Regions from separate parts of the Homo sapiens genome. Here all the other regions are linked to region 1. Evidence: fine-mapped expression QTL. A gene starts in region 1. Each other region holds a variant in brackets. All regions are shown on one strand. Distances are between the middles of the regions.

Region 1 (11,276 bases):
TACTGATGGTTGTGAAGACTGTTTCAAATGATTGGATCTTTGAAAGCTTCAGCGTGCCTTAGTTTCTAGGATCAGAATTAGTTTTCCTCTCACTTGGCCTTGCAGCTAAATGGAGAAATGTTTCAATTTCTTTGAATACTTGCACATTTCAATAATTCCTTTCCCGAGTATAACCACTCAAGGGGGAGCAAATTTGGATGGATTTACGACTTCACAGGCATTGTGAGGAAAGAGCATTTTCCAAGGCTGTTTTGATAACCCTGGGGTGATAAGCAGTGAGCCCTCACACACTTACTTTGACAATTTCACATGCACTTGTACTTCATTATTTCCCTCTTCAAGAGTCGTTTCTATTCTAGTTTCTGCCCCATCCCGGGGAATCCTAAAGGAGAATTAATTCATCTAAGTAATCTCAAAAAACTGTAGGAAGGGTGCTCTCCCTGAGAAGCTTCTCCCACAGTGCTTTGGTGCTGTTACCTTGAGGTGGTTTGGACAGTCACGGAAGTTTTAGGCTGTGCATAGTGATCATCTGTTAATTTTAAGGTCTTTATCATTTAAAGAAACATTCCTCAGTGTAACATTTGGGAGGGGATTCTTTCCTCTTGCTAGTTTAAAGGTGTGATTTGTACTCCTTGTTTGTCCCATTCATATATGAAAATAGACTTTTAAAACTGTCCAACACTAATGGTTTATATAACATGCTTCCCATTTTTTTTATGTCGTAGAAATTGGAAGTTAGGGAGTACTGCTTTCAAGGTTCAACTTCATTATCTTCTGCATTGGAAAATATTTGGGCCATGAGAACTAGGGGAAAGGAGTTTGAATGTGTCTATTTTTTTCTAGTGAATGTATTTTAACCACAGTGTCCTAAACTGAGAAAACTAGAGAGGAAAAAGTGGGTGTTCATGAACTTTGTAGTTGGGAGAGTGGTTTTACATGTCTGTGTATTCATGACTTTGGGAGTGGGTAGGATCATTGGAGAGAGAATTGCACAGAAAGTCCTGAAGTTTAAAACACTTTTGACCAGCTTTGGCTCGGGAGAGTGGGGCTGCTTGTAGAACTGGAAGTGAATAACTTTTTCAAGCAATATCAGTGAGTGGGTCCCATCGACAGGGTTCCAGGACCTGGAACACTTTAACAGAAGGAAATGCCGAAGCAGCTTGCACAGTTGCTTTACAGACTTCCAAGAGGCTGATTCTGGCTTCAAGATGGAGCCTTGGAGTTGGTTTTTTTTTTTTTTTTTTTCTTCCCTCAAAGAACCTGCGGTTGCGCTTTGTGTGTTTTGTTTTTGTTTTCCATTTGGGGGCCCCATGGGAAAGAGCTTCTGAACTCTTTCCTTTATGAACTCCCACTGTGTTCCTATAAAGGCCCTTTTCTTTCTTAGTGTTGTAAGTTACATTTTCATTATGCCCCATCACATCTTCTTTACTGTAAAAATATTAAAAAGCTGTTTCCAAGTGGGACAGCTAATGAAGCTCTAATTATTGCAGACATATTTTTGAGATGTAAAAAAAAAAATTTAAAGTTAAATGATAAGTCTTAGAGGCGAGTGAGGAATAAAATGGATGTAAACATTTACATGGGATGCATTAGAATTCTGCTGTGTGTACTGTCTTTTGGTTGAAACAAATTATGAACAGTGACTAATAATAAAAAGTCAATACCCAATGATTTAAAATTTGCTTCCTTGCTTCTTACAATTGGATTAGAAGACTTAGATGAATTCTTATTCCAGAGGTTGAGCTAACTTACTGACCTGTTAGTATTCCTTTCACACATAAGTCTCACCAAGAGAGGAATTTGAATCACTTAAAAACTTGTAGCCAGGCGCGGTGGCTCACGCCTGTAATCCCAGCACTTTGGGAGGCCGAGGTGGGCGGATCACCTGAGGTTGGGAGTTAGAGACCAGCCTGACCAACATGGAGAATCCCTGTCTCTACTAAAAATACAAAATCAGCCACGTGTGGTGGCGCATGCCTGTAATCCCAGCTACTCGGGAGGCTGAGGCAGGAGAATTGCTTGACCACAGGAAGCGGAGGTTACAGTGAGCCGAGATCACGCCATTGCACTCCAGCCTGGGGTGACAAGAGTGAAACTTCATCTCAAAAACAACAACAACAACAAACTTGTGTTATAGACAGTAAAAAAGTCCTAAGTGCAATTGGACATTTTAACTATAATATGATTAATTTCATGCTTAATCTCCATAGGTCAATTCTCAAGGCAGAGAAACCAAGATGAAATGTATATTAAGGGTGGTTATGGGTTTTCTTTATAAGCTGCTTTTTGTGAATTTTTCAAGTGTATCTGTGACTGGGCAGAGGAAGGCTTGACCAGTCAAAATGAGTTATATTTCATGGTCTATTTTATATGAACTGTGTATTTTGTATATATTAACTTTTGTAGGGATGTGGTCTTGCTATGTTGCCTAGGCTGGTCTTGAACTCTTGGCCTCAAGCAATCCTCTTGCCTCAACTTCCCAAAGTGCGGGGATTACAGGCGTAAGCCACCGCACCTGGCTTGTCTTTTTTTAAGACAGAGTCTCGCTGTGTCACCCAGCTGGAGTGCAGTGGTGCGGTCACTGATCACTTCAGCTTTGACTGCCCTGGTTCAGGCAGTCCTCCCACCTCAGCCGTTCTAGTAGCTGGGACTACTGGCATGCACCACCATGCCTGGCTAATTTTTGTATTTTTTTTTTTCCTTTGGTAGAGACAGGGTCTCACTATGTTGCCCAAGCTAGTCTCAAACTCCTGGGCTCAAGTGATCCACTAGCCTCTGCCTCCCAAAGTTCTGGGATTACAGGCGTGAGTCACTGTGCCTGGCTGTCAACTCTGTGTTTTGGAGGTTGGTAGCTTTAGGTTTTCTGTTATTCTGATGATCCCTGACAGTCCCTTGATTGAGAAAGGGGAGAGTGTGATAGTCCCGATTGAAAAGGGGAAGGGTGTAGGCCCTGGCAGTTATCTAGTTTATGCAGAAGTGCCCTTTGGTACTGTTTGATAAGCAACATTTCTATAATCTTATGTATGAGTTAGTTAAAATTCATAGTTGTTTCTAATATTAAATTTAGTTGGCACCTTCATGTAATTAGAGGAAAATAGAAAAGTTTAGCCAGTAATAGACATTTAACAATACAACAAATAGTATTCAGATCTGAATTTCAATTCAGAAGCACCAAATTAATTTTTATCACTTTTAAGGGTTTTCTATCCTATGTCTTCAATTGTCAATTCAATTGTCCCCATATTTGAAAAATATCAAAATGTTCACAGAAAAATTCTCCAAACTTTGAAGCTAGGTAAACACTGCCTGTTTATTTGGAACCAAAATTAGGAATATCCAAATCTGCTTAACCTATTGGTAGAATAACAAGGGATTTAGGCCCAAAGATGACTTTGTGGATCACTGGAGTGCGTACTAGATATAAATAAGTAAATATAAGTCTCATCTGCTTCCTCTCCCAACATCTGATAGGCATGAGCTTCCCTTCTCCAGACTTCCCATTTTGTAGTGAAGATCTGGAAAAGCTCCTGGCATAAAGAAGGTGTGTGCGTGTGTACATACCAGAGAGGGGAAGCACAGCTGCTACAGGAAGGAGACAGAAAGGAGAGATCATGATGACTTCTCTGTCTCTTGGTTTGAGCTAAACAGTGATTTTTGTAATGATGAACCTGCAGTGAGGGCAGATGGATTTTCGCACAAAAAAAATCCCAGAGGAATTTATTTTTAGGGTTAGTCTCAGCTGTTTACCATTTCCAGAAATTGTAGTTACATAACCCTTGGCATACATAATGCACAGTGCCTTGAACTGGGGGAGAACATCAATATGTGACCTTTGAAACAAAGTATAAAATGTTAATGGCACTACATGATTTGAAAAAAATCAACTGGTTGTCACTACTGAATTGGATCTTAAATCATGGGAACCATTAAAGGTAGTTACATCATAAATTAGCCCCTGAAACTTTTGGGCGGATGGGTTTTTTTTTTTATGTTTTCCCTTTTGAAAGAGGAACTACTGTTGCCAGAATGAAGAAGTAAATAGCAATGCTTATGCCTACTATCCCTTTAATTAAACAATTATTCACCACTGCTGTTCCCCAGCATGAGCTGAAACTTTAGTTCTGCAACAAGATCTTTCCTTTTTGTGTAGTCAGTCAATAAAGAGCTTCTACTCATGAAATCTGGAAAAGGTAATGTATAATGCCTCAAGAAACAGACTCTTACAGCCAGGTGTGGTGGCTCACACCTGTAATCCCAGCATTTTGGGAGGCTGAAGTGGGCGGATGGCTTGAGCTCAGGAGTTCGAGACCAGCTTGGACAATATGGTGAAGCCCCATCTCTACAAAAAAAATGCAAAAAGTAGCCAAGCGTAGGGTGGTGCTCACTTGTGGTCCCAGCTACTGGGAGGCTGAGGTGGCATGATCACCTTAGCCCATGGAGGTTGAACCTGCAGTGAGCTATGATTGTGTCCATACCGTACTCCAGCCTGAGCAACAAAGCGAGACCCTGTCTCAAAAATAAAAAAAATATAAAAGGCTTTTGAAAAACACTTTTTTTTTTCCTTGAGACAAGAGTCTCCCTCTGTCACCCAGACTGCAGTGCAGTGGCGCGATATCTCGGCTCACTGCAACCTCCACCTCCCAAGTTCAAGTGATTCTCCTGCCTCAGCCTCCTGAGTAGCTGGGCCTACAGGCTCGTGCCCCCACACTGCCTAATTTTTGTATTTTTAGTAGAGATGGGGTTTTGCCATGTTGGCCAGGCTGGGTTCAAACTCCTGACCTCAGGTGATCTGCCCGTCTTGGCCTCCCAAAGTGCTGAATTACAGGCATGAGCCACTGCACCCAGCCAGAAACACTTGTTCTAAACCACATTTTTTTCTTATCACTGCTTGCCTGCCCTTGTTAAAATTTGCTTCTGTCTCCATATTGGTGCCTATTGCTTATATACCAGTTTTCTTGTTGGGAGAAATTACCCAGTAAGCACTGAAATGGGAATCCAACTACTTTGAGTACCTTTCCTGAAAATAATTTCAAGGTGGAAGGAAAATCCAGGAGGTGGATGACCTAAGAGTTTTCTCCCACCTTAAACCAGACTCACAGTGACAAATCGTTTTTAATGCATTAAAATGAGGCCAAGAAATGAAGATTACTGGAGATTGGAATTTTGGTATATACAAAGCTAACTTGTGAAGGGAGAAAGTAGGTCAGAAAGGGGTCGGAACCTGCAAGAGCCAAATTTGGTCCTGGCATTTAAAATATCTCCAAATGGATACATATCTCAGATGGGGGACACAGACTGCTCTGTTAAATCTAAAAGTCTTGTACTAAGCCTGCAATTATTCTAGACATACAGTTAGTCTGAATGAGGCAAACTGAAGCAATGGATAATAGGGACAAAGGGTCCTGCTTTGTCACCCAGGCTGGAGTGCAGTGGCACGATCTCGTCTCACTGCAACCTCCGCCTCCCGGGTTCAAGCGATTCTCCTGCCTCCACCTCCCAAGTGGCTGGGATTACAGGCGTGCGCCACCCTGCCCAGCTCATTTTTTTGTATTTTTGGTATAGACAGGGTTTCGCTATGTTGGTCAGGCTGGTCTCGGACTCCTGGCCTCAAGTAATCTGCCTGCCTTGGCTTCCCAAAGTACTGGAATTACAGTTCTATGAAAGTGAAGAAATTACTGTTTTTTGCTGTCTAATTCCTTACAAGTTGCTTGAAGATTCAACACCCTATGTATGAGGGGAAGCCCTAAAAATCTGGAAGTCTAGAAGCCTTCCTAGGAAAATTTAGGAGGAATCGACAGAGTACTTTTCGAGAAACCGATTGGATCTTCAATTTAGAATTTTGGAATTATAATGGCTACTATGGATCCCCACTATACGTTAGGCACTTTGTATGCACTAAATCTTCATCATAACTACTTGGCAGATTTTAATCTCTTTCTCACAGCTTAAGAACGAAAGGCTTAGATCAAGTAACTTGCACAGGGGTATAGATCTAAAGAAGGGCAGAGGGGAGATCTGGAAACAGGCTGGCTGACTCCAAATTTGGCCCATTGGCAACAAAACTACTATCACTGCGAGAACGAAAAGAAAAACAAAACAAAGAAAAGAAAAGAAGTTAACTTTTAAAAGTTTTTTTCTGAATCAGCCTTGCAAATAAATCATAAACCGGGTCACAGGCCATATTACTGCTTGAAGCAGAGCACCGAATTCTGATAATTTTGCTCCAGGAGGAGGCAAGGGAATTAAAACATGGCTGGGAGGTGAGCGGACGTTTTGTACGAGGTTGGGTTGAATTTGCTTAAGAAGGTCGCACGCATCTCTGATAAGGAAGAGAAAAGGCCTTGCCAAGGTGAGTATTCTCAACAGTTCGTTCAACGGCTTGGCAGGTGAGGGAAGTTACAAGAGCCACCCTGGCGGAGGGCAGCGTCTTGTCACAATTGACAGGTGCCGGCGCCACCTGCTTCTTTCTCCCGCGGGTTTCTTAGAGGGCGGGGAAAGCAGCAAATACCCCTCCTTGCGCTCTAGTCCTCCAAGCCTAGGGCGGCGGGCAGTGGAGGCCCAGCGCTCTGCGGTGGTGCCAGGTTCCGCCACGCGGGCCGCGGCCGGAATGCGGCTCGGTGGCGCCCGGGCCACTCGGCGCCGGCAGCTGCTTAGGTCCAGCGGGGCTGCGGGAGGGGCGGAGCTGGCGAGCCGCCGGAGGGGCGGAGCCGGCGGGCCGCGGGGGGCGGGGCCACCGGTTGCTCGCGCGCGCCGCCGAGGCTCCGCACGCCGTCGCGCGGGCCGGGCGTCTCTGTGAATCCTGGGTCGCCGATGGGGGAGGTGGAGCCGGGGCCCGCGGGCCCGCTGGAGCCCCCGGAGCCGCCCGAAGCGCCCGCGAGCCGCCGGCCGGGAGGGATCCGGGTCCTGAAGGTGAGGAGGCGGATGGACCAGCGAGCGAGCGAGCGGGCGAGCGGGCAAGCGGACTAGGGAGGGAACGAGGGAGGCTAGAGGCCGCTGCCGCCCCCGCCCCGCGCAGTGGCTGAGGCAGTCGGCGGCCCCCGCCCGGCGTCAGTCAGTCGGCCGCCCCACACCCGGCTGGGGACGCCGAGGCCTCCGCGCCGCGCCCGCGTCCAGGCCTCGGCGCCTCGGTACCCCGCTGCTGCCCATCCCTGGCCGCGCGCCGCCCGCCTCGCAGGCCCACGCCTTTGGGCTGCGGGTAGCCGCCGCCCACCCGGACCCTTCGCCGCCCCTGCTTGCCTCGCCGCGCTCGGGGCCCGGAGGCCGGCTCCGGAGGGCTCGGAGGGCCGCCGGTTCCTGGCACAGGAGCGGGGCTGGAAGTACGCAGGGCTTTCTCCCCTCCCGGACACCTGAAGACATCACCCCAGCGGGAGGATGGCAGCGGCGATTGGCCGGCGCCGCGGAGGGTTCGGGGCCAGGCCGGGTGGAGCCGGCTCCTCTGCCCTCGGGGCTCGCTACCCGAGGTGCCAGCCGGCAAGGACGACCCGCCCAGCTTGGAGAGAGAATCCCCGCTGGAGCTGCGTCGCGGGGACTTGCTGGGCGTGTTGCGGAAGGGAGGAGGGGCCGGGCCGAAAGGGGCATTCCTGCTCCCGGGAGCGGGGCCGACTGCCGAGGGAGACGGAATGGGGGAGCCGTTATGCAACAGGCAGCTAGCGGGGCTTCTTGGCAGGAATTGGGGGAGTGGGAGGATATGAAAACAGATGTAGGCAAGAGGGGAGTGGAACCTTGAAGGTGATGAGAAGTAAGTTTACGAAGGAATGCACAAGGTAGGGTGGCGATAGTGGGGAGGAGAAGATGGTTAAAGGGAGGGGTTGTGGGAGGCTGACTGGGTGGAGTTTTTTACTAGCATTTGAAAGAGTTGCAGAGAAATTTTTCTGTAGGTCAAATACGTAAACTAGGTGTCCTTCCGCAGGTGGAATGGAATTCCTTCTAGAGTTCTACATGAGGAATTCAGGATATGAAACTTGCCCAGTAGAAGGATGGAAAGGAAAGAAAATTTAAATTTGATGTGTTTCAAAAATACATTGCAAAACAAAACGTATGATGTTAAAAATCCTTTAGTAGTTTATTGGGATTGAGGTTCAGCAGTATTTACATGTTATGAAGGTTAGTACGATGTTACAAAGATGGGAACACGGAAAAACAATAATAGAACCCAGTGAATCCATGGAACAACGTAAACTAGAACTCTGTAAAATATAAAACATTTTTTGTGCTACTGCCTCTCAGTTTTTTTTCTTTTTATTTATTTTTTGAGACAGGGTCTCACTCTGTCACCCAAGCCTGAGTGCAGTGACTCGATCTCTGCAACCTCTGCCTCCAGGGTTCAAGCGATTCTCCTGCCTCAGCCTCTTGAGTAGCTAGGATCACGGGCACCCGCCACCACACCCCACTGATTTTTTTGTATTTTTAGTAGAGACAGGGTTGCGCTATGTTTCCCAGGCTGGTCTTGAACTCCTGATCTCCAGTGATCCGCCCGCCTTGGCCTCCCGAAGTGTTGGAATTACAAGGATGAGCCACCACGCCCGGCCTCATACAGTTTTGTTAAGTAGCTGAGTGGTTGAATTGTGCCAAGTGATGCTGGAAAAGAAGTATTACAGTAGAATACTCTGAATTGGGAAGAGTCATCTCCCACTCATTTTTCTCTGAAGACCCTTCCAAAACTTCATTCTTTTTTGTAACTCTTTTATACCTAATACCAAATCATGAACATTATTGTCAGATAATACAGATATTCTTCAAAAGGCTAATATAACTAAGCCAGTCTAACTTAGCCAGACTAGATCCAGTTCCATCTATCCTGGGATACTGGAAAATTTCCTTCAAAATGTGCCCCCAGATTTATTTAGCGAATTGCTGGACCATAGGTTTGTAAATTTTCCAGGTGTTTCCTACAATTTGGGGTTTATGGTTTTTTTTTAGTAATGATTAACTTTTTTACTCAGCTTATAGAAGATAGGAAGTTACAGCTAATGTCGGTGTGTGTCATGAGATTCATTTTTTTTTTTTCAAGAACAGTTTTGGGTGTTTAGCAAAGTATGTATAAACAATTAATGCCAAAAAAAATTTAAAAAGATTTTTTTTTAGAGACATAGCTTCATTGTGTAGCCCACGCTGGAGTGCAGTGGTGTGATCATAGCTCACTGCAGGTTCAAACTCCTGAGCTCAAGTACCTCAGCCTCTCAAGTAGCTAGGACTATAGGCACATGCCTGGCTAATTTTTATTTTTATTTTTGTAGAGATGGGGTCTTGCTATGTTGATCTCAAACTCCTGGCCTCAAGTGATCCTCTTAACCTTGGGCTCCGAAAGCACTGGAATTACAGGCATGAGCCACTGCACCCAGCCCAAAACGTTATTATTGTTATTATTTTTTTGAGGCAGAGCCTCTCTCTTGCCCAGGCTAGAATGCAGTGGCGCGATCATGGCTCAAGTGATCCTCCTGCCTTAGCTTCCTGAGTAGCTGGGATCATAGGCACGTTTTTTTTTTTGTTTGTTTGTTTTGTTTTTTTAGTAGAGATGAGGTCTTACCTTGTTGCCTAGGCTGGCCTTCAACTCCTGGGCTTAAAGGCTGTCCCTCCTCGGCATCCCAAAGTGCTGGGATTACAGGCATGAGCCACCGCACCCAGCCCCAAAACATTTTTAAAGCGCTGACATATTCTTTCTCTATCTCATCCCATCCCTCCCCACCGCTTTCACAATATTTAATAACGTGTGTATTCCCAGATATGAGTCTATATTGTTTTAAAGTTTTGAATGCAGAAACATCTTCTACCTAAGAGTATTTCACATTGTTTTTTTTTTTTTCGTCTTTTGTTTTTTTTTCCGAGGTGGAGTTTCGCTCTTGTTGCCCATGCTGGAGTGCAATGGCACGATCTTGGCTCACCGCCTCCCGGGTTCAAGCGATTCTCCTGCCTCAGCCTCTCGTGTAGCTGGGATTACAGGCATGTGCCACTACGCCTGGCTAATTTTGTATTTTTAGTAGAGACAGGGTTTCTCTATGTTGGTCAGGCTGGTGTTGAAGTCCTGGCCTCAGGTGATCCGCCTGCCTCAGCCTGCCAAAGTGCTGGGATTACAGGCATGAGCCACCGCACCCGGCCGTATTTCACATTCTTGCAGAACTAACTGAATATGGAGAGTTACTTTACCAGACCCTGTTTATACCATGTATATCTTATTATTGTATGTGAGTGTGTAATAGTATATCACCTTTGAACTGATCATTGCCCTCATGGAACACTTTTAGAGTTAAAAGTATAAAACTGGGCTGGGCACAGTGGCTAACTACTATAATCCCAACACTTTGGGAGGCCGAGGCGGGTGGATCATTTGAGGCCAAGAGTTCAAGACCAGCCTGGCCAACATAGTGAAACCCCGTCTCTGCTAAAAATATTTTTAAAAATTAGCTGGGCGTGGCCAGGCGCGGTGGCTCACGCCTGTAATCCCAGCACTTTGGGAGGCCGAGGCTGGTGGATCACGAGGTCAGGAGATCGAGACCATCCTGGCTAACACAGTGAAACCCCGTCTCTACTAAAAATACAAAAAATTAGCCAGGCGAGGTGGTGGGCGCCTGTAGTCCCAGCTACTCGGGAGGCTGAGGCAGGAGAATGGCATGAACCCCGGGGGGCGGAGCCTGCAGTGAGCCGAGATTGTGCCACTGCACTGCAGCCTGGACAACAGCGACACTCCGTCTCAAAAAAAAAAAAAAAAAAAAAAAATTAGCTGGGCATGGTGTTGTGCACCTGTAATCCCAGCTACTCAGGAGCCTGAGGCAGGAAAATCGCTTGAACCCGGGCGGTGGAGGTTGCGGTGAGCCGAGATCGTGCCACGGCACTCCAGCCTGGGCAACAGAGGGAGATGCTGTCTCCAAAAAAACAAACAAACAAAAGTGTAAAATTGAAGCAGTGGGTATTTAATTCATGGCTTACCCTCAAGACTTTTGCCTTCTAGAAAGATTTTTTTTTTTTTTAAAGACAGAGTCTCCTTGTGTCACCCAGGCCCATAGCTTATAGAAGATACGAAGTTACAACTAATGTCGGTGTGTGTCATGAGATTCTTTTTTTTTTTTCAAGAATAGTTTTGGGTGTTGAGCAAAGTATGTATAAACAATTAATGCCAAAAAAATTAAAAAAGATACTTTTTAGAGAGATAGCCTCATTGTGTAGCCCACGCTGGAGTACAGTGGCGTGATCTCCGCTCACTGCAGTCTCCACCTACTGTGTTCAAGCGATTCTCATGCCTCAGCCTCCAGGGTAGCTGGGATTACAGGCATGCGTGCCAC
Region 2 (11,276 bases), 30 kb after region 1:
GTGATGAGACACACGTATACACACATGCATGCACGTGCACAGAGGCCTCAGTGTCTTTTATAACCAAGCTTTGTAAGTCACCTTTACTTTTACCACTTTTTACTTATTAAGAAATGAGTCACAGGCCAGGTGCGGTGGCTCACGCCTGTAATCCCAGCACTTTGGGAGGCTGAGGCGGGCAGATCACAAGGTCAGGAGATTGAGACCATCCTGGCTAACACAGTGAAACCCTGTCTCTACTAAAAATACAAAAAATTAGCTGGGCCTGGTGGCGGGCACCTATAGTCCCAGCTACTGGGAAGGCTGAGGCAGGAGAATGGCGTCAACCTGGGAGGTAGAGCTTGCAGTGAGCCGAGATCGTGCCCCTGCACTCAAGCCTGGGTGACAGAGCGAGACTCTGTCTCAAAAAAAAAAAAAAAAAAAAAAAAGAAATGAGTCACTAAACACAGCCCATACTATAGAGAGAGGAATTAGCTCCAGTTTTTGAAAGGAGTGTCAAAGAATTTGTGGGTCTATTTTTTTTTTTAATTTTTTATTTTTTTTGAGACAGGGTATCACCCAGTTGCCTAGGCTGTAGTGCAATGCTGCCATCATGGCTCACTGCAGCCTCAACCTCCTGGGCCCAAATGATTCTCCCACCTCAGCCTCCCAAGTAGCTGGAACTACACGTGCGCACCACTGCACCTGGCTAATTTTTGTATTTTTTGTAGAGCTGAGGTCTCGCCATGTTGCTCATGGCTCGAGGCTGGTCTCAAACTCCTGGGCTCAAGTGATCCTCCTATCTTGGCCTCCTAAAGTGCTGGGATTACAGGCACGAGCCACTGTGAGCAGCCGGATCTATAATAAAACTGATGCAGGATATTTTCTTGACCCCTCTTTGGGACTTGTGACAGGGGTACCCCATTTACTCAGCCCACCCCGCTCAACCCCTTGTGGGAGGGAATGCGCAGGTGAATGAGTGCGTGAACTGGCTAGCTGATTGGACGCTGGTGGGAACAAACCGTGTTCACTGGGGTCTGTTGTGCTCCACCCTTTGTGGGATGTAGCGCATAGGAGAGCGAGTGCAGGAACTGGCTGCCTGCTTTAGCACCAGCAGAAGCAAACTCTGTGTAGGCTTGCAGCAGCGTCCAGGTGGGGGTGTCTGTGATCCCAAGGCCCCAGAGGACATGTTATAATGCTCTCTTACCTCTCTCATCTGCAGACGGCAATGTGTTACCAGGTCAGTGGTCCCTTTGCCTTGTTGCGTAGGGCGGCTGCTTTCCACCAGTGAGGGTAAAGGGCCAGTGTGACAGCCTTTTTGAATACCGGCACTTGGTGCGTCCCAAATTCTTGTCTGGTGCCTAAGAGGCATGAGGTCATGTGGACAAATTGAAAGATGGTGAATGCGGAGAATTTTATTGAATGATGAAAGCAGCTCTCAGTGAAGAGTGGAGCTGGAAAGGGAATGGGAAGGGCAGCTCACTCTCCCTTGAAGTCAAGTTGCCTCCCTGCCACTGTCTTCTGAAGTCAAGTCGCCTCTCCCTGATGTCCAGCTGCTTCTCTTCTCTGCTCGCTGAGTCTGGGGTCTTCATGGGCACAGGATGGGAGGTGCTGTAGGTAGTTTTGGAAAAGGCAACATTCGATTGGTAAAAAGACACTCAGAAAGAACCATTCAGGAGAGAGCAGACAAACAGGGATGGAAATTCTCACTTTGGGCCACAGGTTTCAGGCTTTTTGGCTCGAAGGTGGGGTTTTGCTGGGCACCTGTCCCTGTCTGCCTAGAATTTCTCTGCCTCCTGTCTCTATCAAAACTATCATAGAAAATATGCTTCCCTCTCACCTTTTTCCTCCAACCACCCAGTTCCTGAAACCAGACACAACTATTGTTACGGAAGGAAAGAGTTGAAGTATTCTCTTTGAAGTAAATAGCTTAGTAATCAGCTTCAAATATTTTATGTGTAGAATTTTTGGTGCATCAGCTTATTTGGAATATAGTGTTAATAAAGCCAAGGTCATAAGGGCCCGAGTGCGAACCAGTTAATGTTGTGTTCTCTGGTTATAAAAGGACACTGGGTAGTGTCCCAGTCAGCCATTATGCAAATGCCAGTTATCAGTCTTGCTGGAGAGGGAGTGCTGGGGGAAAAGTGAGTGGAATGGCTCTCTCAGTTCGAATTCATGATATAAAAGCTGTGGAGATAACATTTCACTAAAGTCAAGTTGAGTAGGTAGCATGATTAATCATGGGATTAAGAGAGCATGTAAATCCTCTGCAGACAGTTAAGCCAACTGAGTTCCTTTCCTCAGGGAGGCCCAGTGTACAATGGCTGCCCACAGCAGCTTCCTTGGTAGCGTACTCAGCCTGTTTCTTGTATGGGTTGCTCTAAGGGACCTTAGAGACAGGCCTTTCAGATGGATGTTCATGTCTCTGACTTTGTGCTATCCCCAGTCTAGGCTCCAAACAGGTATGCGAGGTGCCTTTGGAAAGCCGCAGGGCACTGTGGCCGAGGTTCACATTGGCCAAGTTACCATGTCCATCTGCACCAAGCTGCATAACAAGGAGCACATGATTGAGGCCCTATGTAGGGCCAAGTTGAAGTTCCCTGGTTGCCAGAAGATCCCACATCTCTAAGAAGTGGGGCTTTACCAAGTTCAATGCAGATGAATTTGAAGACATGGGGGCTGAGAAGCAGCTCATCCCAGATGGCTGCGGGGTCAGTTACATCCCCAGTAGTGGCCCTCTGGACAAGTGGCGGGCCCTGCTCTTGTGAGGGCTTCCACTGTGCTGCCCCCTCTTAATGCTCACCAATAAATCCTACTTTCTGGGCCGGGCGCGGTGGCTCACACCTGTAATCCCAGCACTTTGGGAGGCTGTGGCAGGCGGATCACGAGGTCAGGAGATTGAGACCATCCTGGCTAACACAGTGAAACCCCGTCTCTACTAAAAATACAAAAAATTAGCTGGACGTGGTGGCGGGTGCCTGTAGTCCCAGCTACTCTGGAGGCTGAGGTGGGAGAATGGTGTGAACCCGGGAGGCAGAGCTTGCAGTGAGCTGAGATGGTGCCACTGCACTCCAGCCTGGGCGACAGAGCAAGACTCCATCTCAAAAAAAAAAAAAAAAATCCTACTTCCTGTTCACCTTAAAAAAAAAAAGAGAGAGAGAGAGAGAAAGAGCAAACCTCTTATTTGCGTTGGAGAAAGTGGCATATAGAGGGTATGATTTGTGAGGGAAGTTGTAGCTCTGGGACTGTATGGCTCAGGTAGCACAACTCCCTGCCTGAACGTTTCTCTGTGTACTGCATTCTCTGCACATATTGTTTAAAACAGCTTTGTCAAAAGAGCATAAATACAAACATCAGAAGCCAGACGCAAAAGAATTACATCGTATATTTCCATTCATTTAAAGTTCAGAAAACAGGCTAAAACACAGCCATATTATTTTGAAATGTGTGGCAATACTATTGTTTATCAAAATCTGTTCTTTCATAGTAACAAAATTGTAGTGGGGCATATAACTGCCTAGCTACAGCCCATTTCGCAGCCTTTCTTGCGGTTAGGTGTGTACATGTGACAAAATTTTCTTCCATTGTATGGAGTGGACTTGATGTGCGCCACTTCTACCTGGTTCCTAAAACCCCCAGTGTGTGCTTCTCAGGGCTGTGGTGCTCTTTTCCTGTCTGGTGGGCTAGGATGGCAATAATCAGAGCAATAATTGAAGTCAAGTGTGGAAAATTGCAGACCCTGAGTTTCTTTTTATTTATTTATTTATTTATTTATTTATTTATTTATTTATTTATTGAGACAGAGTCTTGCTCTGTCGCCCAGGCTTGAGTGCAGTGGTGCCATCTCAGCTCACTGCAACCTCCGCCTCTCAAAGATTCAAACAGTTCTCCTTCCTCAGCCTCCTGAGTGACTGGGATTAGAGGAACCCACCACCACAGCTGGCTAATTTTTGTATTTTTAGTAGAGATGGGGTTTCACCATGTTGGCCAGGTCTCGAATTCCTGACCTCAAGTCATCCGCCTACCTCGGCCTCCCAAATGTGCTGGGATTACAGGTGTGAGCCACTGTGCGTGGCCAGAACCTGAGTTTTTGAATGACAGTGTTAACCCCTGGCAAAACAGAATGCTCACTTGAATGAATTAAATTCCTGTTGCTTGAGCCATTATATTGTTTGCTACAGCCATAGTTAATACAGGATATATACGAAAGTGGCAAAAATATAAAGAGAGCAAGGAAATTATTATAAAAGTCAAGGGAGTGACTGAGGAGTGCAGGGAAGAGGACATGATTCTTACAAGTAGAATTTTTTTTTTTTTTTTTGAGATGGAGTCTCACTGTGGCCCAGGCTGGAGTGCAGTGTCGTCTAGGCCGGGTGCAATCTCAGCTCACTGCAGCCTCTGCCTCCTGGGTTCAAGCAATTCTCATGCCTCAGCCTCCCAAGTAGCTGGAGCTACAGGCACCCACCACCATGCCTGGCTAGTTTTTGTATTTTTAGTAGAGACAGGGTTTCACCATGTTGGTCAGGCTGGTCTCGAACTCCTGACCTCAGGTGATCTGCCCACCTTGGCCTCCTGAAGTGCTAGGATTGCAGGCGTGAGCCACTGCGCCCGGCCACATTTAAAATTTTGACTGAGCATTCCCAAGTTGCACAAATAGGTGTTACTAGTGTGTAGTTGATTTGGTAGAATTTGAGAGTACTTATTTCCCTACACCTTTGACAACATCAGGTATCATCTTTTCCCCGATTGCAAAAATACTATCTCATGTTAATTTGCATATTTAAAGCTTCTTTGTTAAAATATAGGAGTAACGTGGTAGAAAAACATTCCACCACCCTAATACAATTATTTTTATGATTGTGTATTTTCTTAGTCTTATTTTATATGCATATTTTATATTTTTATTTATTGTTCATATATTTTTGCATTTAAAACATTGGGTGTTTAACTACACAAGTGTAATATGACTATGGTGTCATTATCTGTGGTGTTTTAATTTGTTATAATCACCTCCTAAGTCCATTAACTGCTCTATAGATAACCACCATCAATTTGGTGTATATCTGTTCAGAATTTTCCAACTTGATTATTTTTATATAGTATATATTCATAGAACCATATGGATTTTGTTTACATAAATGGTATTATTTGGTATTGGTCTTCATGCTTTTTTCACCCAAGAGTTTGTCTTGGAGATCTTACCTTGTCAGCATTTGCAGAACCATCTTCTGTATGCATTTCTTTTTTTTTTTTTTTCTGAGACAGAGTCTCACTCTTGTTTCCCAGGCTGGAGTGCAGTGGCATGACCTCGGCTCACTGCAACCTCCACCCCCCAGGTTCAAGCGATTCTGCTGCCTCAGCCTCCCAACTAGCTGGGATTACAGGTGGCTTACCACCACACCCAGCTAATTTTTGTATTTTTAGTAGAGGCGGGGTTTCACCATGTTGGCCAGGCTGGTCTTGAACTCCTGACCTCAGGTGATCCGACGGCCTTGGCCTCCCAAAGTGCTGGGATTACAGGCATGAGCCACTGTGCCCGGCCCTGTATACATTTCTTTCAGGGGCATAGTATTGGACATCATGTATGCATTATAGTCTGTGTAACCATCTCCTTAGTGATGGACATTTACTTTGTTTCCAGTTTTGGACGGTTAAAACAGCCATTTTAGTAAAATTATCTCTTTATGCACCTGTATTCCTTCAGAGTGATCTCTAAGAATGAAATTATTGGGTTATAGGTTACTCACGTTTAAAATATTAATAGTTACTACTGCAGAACACTTTTATATCCTGTCAGTATAACAGAGTACCCCTTTGCCTATAACCTTTCAATATTATTAGGCTTTAAAATATTTACTAATCTGATAGATAAAATGATGGTCTTGGCTGGGCACGGTGGCTCATGCCTGTAATCCCAGC[A/C]CTTTGGGATGCCAAGACGGGCGGATCATGAGGTCGGGAGATCGAGACCATCCTGGCTAACACAGTGAACCCTTGTCTCTACTAAAAAATACAAAATATTAGCCGGGCGTGGTGGCAGGCGCCTGTAGTCCCAGCTACTCGGGAGGCTGAGGCAGGAGAATGGCGTGAACCCAAAAGGCGGAGCTTGCAGTGAGCCAAGATCGAGCCACTGCACTCCAGCCTGGGCGACAGAGCAAGACTCCGTCTCAAAAATAAAAAAAAAAATTTAAAAAATGATGGTCTCTTTGTTTAAATTTTTTTCCCCTGATTACTAGTGTGATTGAGAATTATTTCATATTTTTATTGGATCTTTCAGTTTCTTTGAACTACTCATTGATATTTTTGTACATGTTTCTGTTTCTCTTTTTTCATATTGATTTAAAGGACTTCTGCATGTATTCTGAATATATATCTTTTGGGTACTATATTTGTGACTCAATTTTTTTCCAGCCTGTAACTTTTTATTTTATTTATTACTTTTTATTGTGCATAAGTTTAAAATTTTTATTTAGTCACTGTTTAGTCAATTTATTTATTTTATTTATTTTTTGAGACGGAGTCTTGCTCTGTTGCCCAGGTAGGAGTGCAATGGCATGATCTCGGCTCACTGCAAGCTCGGCCTCCCAGGTTCAAGCAATTCTCCTGCCTCAGCCTCCTGAGTAGCTGGGATTACAGGTGTCTGCCACCATGCCCAGCTAATTTTTGTATTTTAGTAGAGATGGGATTTCACCATGTTGGTCACGCTGGTCTCAAACTCTTGACCTCAGGTGATCCAGCCAGTCAATTTTAAAAATTATTTTATTTTATTTTATTATTTTTGAGACAGTATTGCTCTGTCACCCAGGTTGGAGTGCAGTGGCATGATCTCAGCTCACTGCAGCTTCTACCTCCCTGGTGCAATCGATTCTCCTGCCTCAGCCTCCCGAGTAGCTGAGATTACAGGTGCCTGCTACCACGCCCAGCTAATTGTTGTGTTTTTAGTAGAGATGGGGATTTTGCCATGTTGGCCAGACTGGTCTTGAACTCCTGGCCTCAAGTGATCCAACTGCCCGGGCCTCCCAAAGTGCTGGGATTACAGTTGTAAGCCACTACACCTGGCCAGATTTTTACTAATATACATATATGATATATTTTGCTAGCTGATAGGAAAGTTTTCTGTCCCTGTTCTCTGGAAAATCAGAGATGTCAAGAAATTGGGGGAAGTCTTTGTGAAGAAGTTGTATTTGAGTTGGTTCTTTAAAAATTGACAACGTTTCACTAAGCAGAAATGAAAAAGAAGGCAGCCGTGGGAGATTAAAAATTTCATTGCATGTTCATGAATCACAGTTAATTTGAGTCCAGATTGTTTTGGGCCATGGGTGCTCCATCAGGAGTTTAGCCGTCATTTGGCAGATGGTAGCAGGAAGTGATGGGATCCAAGTGAGCCCAGGGAAGATCAGTCTGGTGCCAGTGTGGATAGTGATTCAGGTGTGAATTGATAAGGATCTGAACTAGGGAATAGGAAGGAATTGTTCATGTGAGAGACTTTTTGAAGGAGTAATCAGTAAGACTTAATGATTGATTGAAAAGAGAAGTTGAGAAAGCGAACCCAAGAGTTGAAGCTGCTTCTGAGGTTTTGAGCATGGGTGACTTCAGGAGATGAGCTTGAGTTGTGAGAAGGAGCTGCTGCTGTACAGGGATGGTGATGACTTGGTTTAGGCATGTTGATCTTTTTTTTCTTTTGTGAGACAGAGTCTCGCTTTGTCCCCCAGGCTGGAGTGCAATGGTGCGATCTCAGCTCACTGCAACCTCCGCCTCCTGGGTTCAAGCGATTCTCCTGCCTCAGCCTCCTGAGTAGCTGGGATTACAGGCATACGCCACCATGCCTGGCTAATTTTTGTATTTTTAGTAGAGATGGGGTTTCCATGTTGGTCAGGCTGGTCTTGAACTTCTGACCTCGTGATCCGCCCGCCTCAGCCTCCCAAAGTGCTGGGATTACAGGCATAAGCCACTGCTCCTGGCCAGGCATGTTGAATTTTAAGTGATGGTAAACATGTAGTTGGAGATATCTGGATAGTTGGAAATGTGGAACTAGAACTTAGGAATATAGATCTGGGAGAACCAAACTCTCTGAGGAAGGTGGAATTTAGAATACAGTCAGTCGTCCATATCCACAATGGATCAAAAATATTTTAAAAAAATAAAAAAACAAAGAAAAATATGGCATAACAACTATTTACTTAACATTTACATTGTTTTAGATATTATAAGTAATCTAGAGATTATTCAAATTATACAGGAAGTTGTGCGTAGGTTATATGCAAATACCATTTCATTTTATATAAGAGACTATAGCATCTGTGGATTTTGGTATCCTTGGGGAGGTCCTGGAATCAATCACTTGCCAATACCAAGGAACGACTGTATAGATGAAAGGATTGACCTAGAATAGAAGGTGAAATGCTTATCCTGTATAGTGTATTAATATACAAAGTTTTATTGAATAATACAATTTTAAGGCTTTGAAGTAATCTAGCTCATTTCCTCATATTGTATATGGGAAACACATGGTTAAATAGGCAAAGTGATACCTAAGTTAAATAGGCAAAGTGATACCTAATTTAAATAGGCAAAGTGATACCTAATTGTATAAACAATTAAGTGGCCAGGTGCGGTGGCTCACACTTGTAATCCCAGCACTTTGGGAGGCCGAGGCAGGCGGATCACGAGGTCAGGAGATGGAGACCATCCTGGCTAACACAGTGAAACCCCGTCTCTACTAAAAATACAAAATATTAGCCGGGCGTGTTGGCGGGTGCTTGTAGTCCCAGCTACTCGGGAGGCTGAGGCAGGAGAATGGCATGAAGCTGGGAGGCGGGGCTCGCAGTGAGCCGAGATCGCGCCACTGCACTCCAACCTGGGCGACAGAGCAAGACTCCGTCTCAAAAAAAAAAAATTATGTAATAATACCAGGAGTACAACCCAGTCTTTCCAACTTCTGTGTTACTGTTTGGACCACCTCATACTGCTACTCCTGCTCATTTCTGTGTATAGTTAGTTGTCCCTTTTTGTTGTTGTTGTTTTGTTTTTTTTTGTTTTTAAGACACAGGGTCTTACTATGATGTCCAGGTTGGCCTTGAACTCCTGGGCTCAAACAGTCTTCCTGCCTCAGCCTCCTGAGTACCTGGGACTACAGGTGCACACTTCTTTTAATAGTGCTCTTACCAAGAACTTCACGTCTTTTCTGTTATTATGTGCTGTTTTGTTCACTGTATCTCAGTCATGAAGGCCTCTGATGAGAAGTAGAATTTCCACCACCGTGATCGGAATAGTTGATTGAAGTACCACCCATAAGCTTTTCCATATTAGTGGCAGAGAGATGGAGGATTATGTACAAAATTAGAGTACTCCTGTAGTTACTAATTTCTTCCTTCTAGGGTAGATTAGTAACAATAGTGGTTGTCATTTATTCCATGTTCTTTTTGTACCTAAAACTATGCTTAGTATTTTATATTCCTTATTTATTTATTTATTTATTTATTTATTTATTTATTTATTTATTTATTTATTTGAGACAGCGTCTTGCTCTGTCGCCCAGGCTGGAGTGCAGTGGCATGATCTTGGCTCACTGCAAGCTTTGCCTTCTGGGTTCACGCCATTCTCCTGCCTCAGCTTCCTGAGCAGCTGGGACTATAGGTGTCCGCCACCATGCCCGGCTAATTTTTTTGTTTTTGTATTTTTAGTAGAGACGGGGTTTCACCGTGCTAGCCAGGATGGTCTCGATCTCCTGACCTTGTGATATGCCCGCCTTGGCCCCCCCAAAGTGCTGGGATTGCAGGCGGGAGCCACTGCAGCTGGCCATCTTACTTAATTTTTATAAGAATCCCCAGAAGGTAGGTTGTGTTAAGATTCAAACTGTATAAATGAGTAAAGTAAAGCGTAATGAGAATAAATAGTTCAAGTAAACAAAGTGACAGAACCAGCATTCAAATTCAAGTATCTCTGACTTCAGAGTTCATGATCTTAACCACTCTACCATACTGCCTTTCTCTGGGTACATAGGAGATATGGCTGTTGGAAGAAGGGTTAATGTAACAATGGCATCCAAAGTACAATTTTGCTTCATAGACCAAAATTCAAAGGTACTCCTACTGTATATAATTCAGTGATGGACTAGATCTAATTTTGTCTTAACTATATTGCTTGGTTACTTATATCTATAAATAAGGTTGTTGAATGTTGACACACAATGCTTTCTTTTTCCATTTCTGTATTCTTACACTACTTTAATGGTGGATTCTGAAGTATTATTTCCTTTTCAGAAAAACCATGCCACATGGATCGTTTGGATCGAATCCTATTGTCTGGCATCTATAATGTACGCAAGGGAAAGACCCAGCTGCATAAGTGGGCTGAGCGCCTAGTTGTCCTCTGTGGTACCTGCCTTATCGTTTCCTCAGTGAAGGATTGTCAAACTGGAAAGATGCACATTTTGCCTCTGGTTGGTGGAAAGGTAAGACTCACAAAGATGAATTATTTTTCATTTGATCATCTTAATTAAGAAAATATCACATAATGCTTTTCATAGCTTTTAGTCATATCTTTTCAAAGAAGCCAGTATGGGCATTATTAAAGATTATATCAGAGACTGTTTCAGAGGTTCAGAGGCTATTATGCCCCAAATCCTGTTGCAGAACTATCTGTTCAAGACATCCCCACCTCCACTGCTAGGCATTAGATTCTGGGGCTCACAATAGCCAGAGTAGACAGTGGATGCTACCATTAGAAGCTGCCTTTGGAAATTAGAAGTAGCTGCCAGCATCCATCACCAAATAGATTCTTTCGGGGTTTTTTTTCCCCCCCAATTAAATTAAAATTCAGAGTCTGAGGTAGTCATAAGTTGTGATCCAGCAGCCAGGGAGCCATGCCATTTCTTCCATCTGTCCTAGAGGAGTCTCCATCCCAGGAAAGGAGTTCACTTGTTAGTCAAACAGAATGAATGACAAATGACCATAAACAGATATGTTAATATTTTTAGGAAGCTATCTATACATGATTTTACTCTGTTTTGAATCTTGACTGTCATAAACCAATCTGAGTTTGTCTGGAAGACTTCCAGACAAAATTACCTCATGAATTCACACTTTGGATCAGGCATCCATTCTGATCCAAATACACAGCAATATTGATAGAATACATGTATGAAAAAGATAAATAAGCTGGGCGTGGTAGCTTGTGCCTGTAATCCCAGCTACTCAGGAGGCTGAGGTGGGAGGATCACTTGAGGCCAGGAGTTTGAAACCAGCCTGAGCAACATTAGCAAGACCCTGTCTTGGCCGGGTGCGGTGGCTCGTGCCTGT
Region 3 (5,000 bases), 200 kb before region 1:
GGAGTGATAATAGGATTCTGATAGAACAAACACTGCTTCCTTAAGAACCAACATTCTTTAGGGATTGGGGGCAAAGTTTTTTTAAAGGAATATAATGTCCAAGTTATTTTGTTATAATAGTCTGATCTGTATTTCCAGTCTTCCATCTAGTATTTTATATTAAGATCATGCCCCCACACACATCTACTGTATGTTTCCTTAAGTTCTAGATTCAGGAAAACTAAATTACAAAAAAATCAAAATAGTGCTCTGACTCTGGAGGGAAGGGCAGAGTTGACTGGCAACAAGGGAACTTTGAGGTAAGAGTAATGTTGTATACCTTGATCAGAGAGTGGAATTGTCTGTGTATACACTTAAAATGTATGGGTTTGCCGGGCGTGGTGGCTCACGCCTGTAATCCCAGCACTTTGGGAGGCCGATGTGGGCAGATCACAAGGTCAGGAGATCAAGACCATCCTGGCTAACATGGTGAAACCCCATCTCTACTAAAAATACAAAAAAAAATTAGCCAGGCGTGGTGGGGGATGCCTGTAGTCCCAGCTACTTGGGAGGTTGAGGCAGGAGAATGGCGTGAACCCGGGAGGTGGAGCTTGCAATGAGCCGAGATCACGCCACTGCATTCCAGCCTGGGTGACAGAGCAAGACTGCCTAAAAAAAAAAAAAACTATGAGTTTTTTTAAAATGTAAATTGTATCTCCATAAGACAACTGTCTAATATTATTTATATTCTTTTTAGACAAAGTCTCACTCTGTCGCCCAGGCTGGAGTGCAATGGCATAATCTTGGTTCACTACAACCTCCGCTTCCCGGGTTCAAGAGATTCTTCTGCCTCAGCTTCCCGAGTAGCTGGGATTACAGGCGCCTGCCACCACACCCAGCTAATTTGTGTATTTTTAGTAGAGACAGGGTTTCACCATGTTGACCAGCCTGGTCTTGAACACCTGACCTCAGGTGATCTGCCCACCTAGGCCTCCCAAGGTGCTGGGATTACAGGGGTGAGCCACCGCACCCGGCCTCTAATTTTAAAAGTATTCTTCCCTCTGGTTTTTGCTGGTAGGTATTATCTTAATTTTTGTTTTTTAAGACAGGGTCTCACTTTTGTCCCCCAGGCTGGAGTACAATGATCACTCACTGTAATCTTGAACTCCTGGGCTAAGAACGCCTCTTGAGTAGCTGTGACCACAAGTCCATACCACCAAGCTCAGATGGGTTTTTTAAAAATTTTTTGTGGAAACAAGGATCTTGCCCAGGCTGTTCTCAAACTCCTGGCCTCAAGTGATCCTCCTGCCTCAGCTTCCCAAAGTGCTTGGATTACAAATGTGAATCACCACACCTGGCCAGTACTTTTTTAATTGAGTGGTAGCTACATGAACATGATTGCTTTACAAAATTCACTGAGCTGGCCGGGCACGGTGGCTCATGCCTGTAATCTCAGCACTTTGGGAGGCTGAGGCAGGCGGATCACAAGGTCAGGAGTTCAAGACCAGCCTGACCAACGTGGTGAAACCCTGTCTCTACTAAAAATACAAAAATTAGCTGGGCGTGGTGGCGTGTGCCTATAATCCCAGCTACTCAAGAGGTGAGGCAGGAGAATAGCCTGAACCCGGGAGGCAGAGGTTGCAGTGAGCCAAGACTGTGCCACCACACTCCAGCCTGGGCAACAGAGCAAGACTCCGTCTCAAAAAAAAAAAAAAAAAATCAGCTGGGGGCAGTGGCTCATGTCTGTAATCCAAGCACTTTGGGAGGCCAAGGCAGGCGGATCTCACAAGGTCAGGAGATCGAGACCATCCTGGCTAACACGGTGAAACCCCGTCTCTACTAAAAATACAAAAAAATTAGCCAGGCATGGTGGCGGGCGCCTGTAGTCCCAGCTACTCAGGAGGCTGAGGCAGGAGAATGGCGTGAACCCGGGAGGCGGAGCTTGCAGTGAGCCAAGATCACAACACTGCACTCCAGCCTGGACAACAGAGCAAGACTCCATCTCAAAAAAAAAAAAAAAAAAA[T/AT]CACTGAGCTATCACTTAGGATTTGTACTTAGAAGCAGGATATCCTGAGTTCTATTTTAGCATTTGGGAAGAGAACAGGGCATGCAGATAGAAGTCCATGGACATGGAAACAGTCTCTAAGGGAGGAACAATAATGAGAAAACAGCAGAGGGTTCAGCACTGAGCTCTGCAGGTTTCTGATTGATACTACTCACCAACAATCTGTGCAGAAGAGATATTCTTATCAGCATTAATGTCATCTACCTGAAACACAAAGATTGTTACCAGAGGAGACAGCAATAGTGTCACTGGAGAAAGTACTGGTGTAAGCCCCTGTGTTTCCAAAAGTTAAGTTGCTCACCAAATGCAACAGAGCCTGTTCCAAAGAAACTGCCCCTGCATTTTTTCCAATCAGGTAGATACTATGTTGAACTCCTTTGATTTTGAGACAGGGTCTCCTGTCACCCAGGCTGGAGTGCAGTGATACAATCACGGCTCACCACAGCCTCCACTTCCTGGCCTCCAGCCATTGCCCCGCCTCAGCCTCCTGCATAGCTGGGACCACAGGCATGCAGCACTATGCCTGGCCAATTTTTGTATTTTGGGTAGAGACAGGGTTTCGCCATGTTGCCCAGGCTGGTCTCGAACGCCTGCCTAAGCCTCCCAAAGTGCTGGGATTACAGGCGTGAACCACCCCGCCCAGCCCCATGTTGAACTCTTAACTGCCAAGCAGAGAAAAAAAAATCCTTACCATACTAAGACAACTTTAATGATACTTTCACCTTTGGGCAAAGGGAAAGCATTCTTGAATATATCTTAAGAACCAAGTCCTCAAATACTGATGAAGATTTTCGACCTCATTCCTACCAACGGCTGTGGGTTATGTGACGCATGCAAAACCAAAGCATAAGAAAAACTCAGGCCCAAGGTAGAACACATCAGCTACAGATGGGAACCAAAGGAAAGAACAGAAAGCAAGCTCAGGAACAGGAAGATCTTCCTAGATGAGTAATTTACATAGCAAATGCCACACCAATTTGTTTCTCAGTAAAATACTAGATGGAGACAGGTCTCAAAAGGCCTACAGTAACTGAAGAAACAAGGCTGGTCAAAAACAAGTAACCTGAACCACCTACAGTTCGAGGTATTATATTAGCTATTCATTAGCAAATTTTAACTAGAATACTAAAATGTGAAATCAATGCTGTCGGCCGACATGTAACTGGACATTTCTGATTAAGATCAATCTGGTCACTCTTCCTTTACATGTGTTGAGAACACATAGGACTAATATTTTAATAATTATGATACTTTAGCACCACGATTGTATCAGCTCAGTGTGATTATCTGCCTAGTCGGTCAAAACAACTGGCTAAGTGCCCTCATAGAGCACTACAACTTTCTAAGAAATCTGCAGTTCCTTCCTGATTCCTGGCTTAATTGCAGACAAAGCATTGCCACCAATGATACTGCCATCACCACCCACTCCACATTTCCAGGGTAGTGTTATAAAGCAACACAAGAATCCCAAAGCAAAAATGATGACAGTACTAGGAGTTGATCAAAACTCTGCCTTCCCTGTGGTCATTATTTTGCTCGCTCTTCATGGCATTCACTCTCCTGTTGCTTATAAAAGAGGCTCAGGCACTTACAGATTCATACGATGGGGGAGTTGCTGGTATCTGAGGTGGATGAATATTGGGAAAGGCCTGATAAGTCCCCATTGGCAGTCCATTGAAATCTGACTGTAAGAGGAGAAAGGCAACATCAGAGACACTGCCTCCAGTTTGCAATCTCGAAGGTTTGGGTATGGGAAGGGAGAAAGAAATACATTTATATTCTCATACTAAATATATATAAATATTCAAGATCCTTAAAAATGCCCAAAAGGACCACATGTGGTCAGGATTCCAGATTTTTAAAGATCTAGAGCCAAAGGCTATTCTTTATTGAATCAAGTGCTTCAGTGTTTACAAGGGAAAACTCTAACGAGACTTTCTTACTACCAATGACCATCTTATCTACAAAGGTTGTTCTGCCTGGTAATAATTGGTGGTTTATTCATTTGTGGAAAAAACTACTAGTATGACTATAACAGATCCCAAAGATATTCAGTAAACCTATATGAAAAGTGTTTTTCTAGCACCAACTCTATAGATTTTCCTACAGCTGAACTAGAAGACCTTCTCTGAATCCAATGTGTTTTTTCCCCACAAGATGACTGCCAGCTAATACCAAATGTTCTTACTGCTAATGGCTCCTGACAACCTATGATTCCTGAGTGTGTTCACAGAGCCAACTTGTTATCTATAACATTTTCTAAAGCTTACATCCACACTTATATATACTTACTGGTCCCTTTGGCAGTGGATATGAGAAAGGCGTATTTGCAGATGGCATAGGCATGGGCATGGGCATGGGCATTGGCACCGTTCCATCAGGTCCACCAACTGGTGCTGTGAAGCCACCACTCCCTCCTCTTCCAGGGCCTCCTTTCTTCACATCATCTGTGAATCCAACATCAATAAGATCTGTCTCTACCCCAGGAGGAGCTTCTGCCTGAGAAAAAAAGAGAAACCCAGGTCATTAACCCATGTCCAAGGCCAGGTTCCCCAGAAAGCGGAGTCTGAGATGGAGATTAGCATAAAGCAAGTTTACTGGAGTGCTTCTGGGATCAACACCTGTGGGGGAAGAAAAGGCAGAGTTAGGTGGAAGGAGAAGTTGGGCTGCAACACAGTCACAACAAAGGCCTCAGCCAATTCCCCAATGACTTCTGCAGCTGGAATGGACCTGATGGTGTTTCCAACTGTGGGTAATAGGGATGTCTGAGCAGTACACACCAAAGCATCCACCACACCCCACTGACCTTAACTGGCGGATGGTTTTTTTTTTTGAGACGGAGTCTCACTCTGTCACCCAGACTGGAGTGCAGTGGCACAATCTTGGCTCACCACAAGCTCTTCCACCTCCTGGGTTCAAGCCATTCTCCTGCCTCAGCCTCCCGAGTAGCTGAGATTA

Evidence for each region.
Region 2: its variant is fine-mapped to the expression of PHLPP2 in whole blood (INTERVAL, PIP 0.92).
Region 3: its variant is fine-mapped to the expression of PHLPP2 in monocytes (BLUEPRINT, PIP 0.95).

Annotation. Positions count from the first base shown.
Region 1 is chr16:71,719,402-71,730,677 of GRCh38, reverse strand. PHLPP2 (PH domain and leucine rich repeat protein phosphatase 2) reads left to right here and starts at 5,977. Exons shown (of 19, transcript NM_015020.3): 1 at 5,977-6,349. AP1G1 (adaptor related protein complex 1 subunit gamma 1) reads left to right here. Exons shown (of 23, transcript NM_001128.6): 23 at 1-1,678. RefSeq lists silencers at 2,552-2,621, 6,404-7,373 and an enhancer at 7,139-7,640.
Region 2 is chr16:71,689,672-71,700,947 of GRCh38, reverse strand. It overlaps PHLPP2 (PH domain and leucine rich repeat protein phosphatase 2), which reads left to right. Exons shown (of 19, transcript NM_015020.3): 4 at 10,239-10,429. It overlaps LOC124903712 (a long non-coding RNA gene), which reads right to left. Exons shown (of 2, transcript XR_007065109.1): 2 at 1,375-1,590. SNORA70D (small nucleolar RNA, H/ACA box 70D) reads left to right here and starts at 2,247; the gene lies at 2,247-2,381. The variant A/C (reference allele first, on the strand shown) is at 5,899.
Region 3 is chr16:71,922,015-71,927,014 of GRCh38, reverse strand. IST1 (IST1 factor associated with ESCRT-III) reads right to left here. Exons shown (of 10, transcript NM_001270975.2): 7 at 4,335-4,541; 8 at 3,635-3,727; 9 at 2,198-2,246. Among named protein-coding and RNA genes, the nearest start is that of IST1, 29 kb to the right of the region's middle. The variant T/AT (reference allele first, on the strand shown) is at 2,004.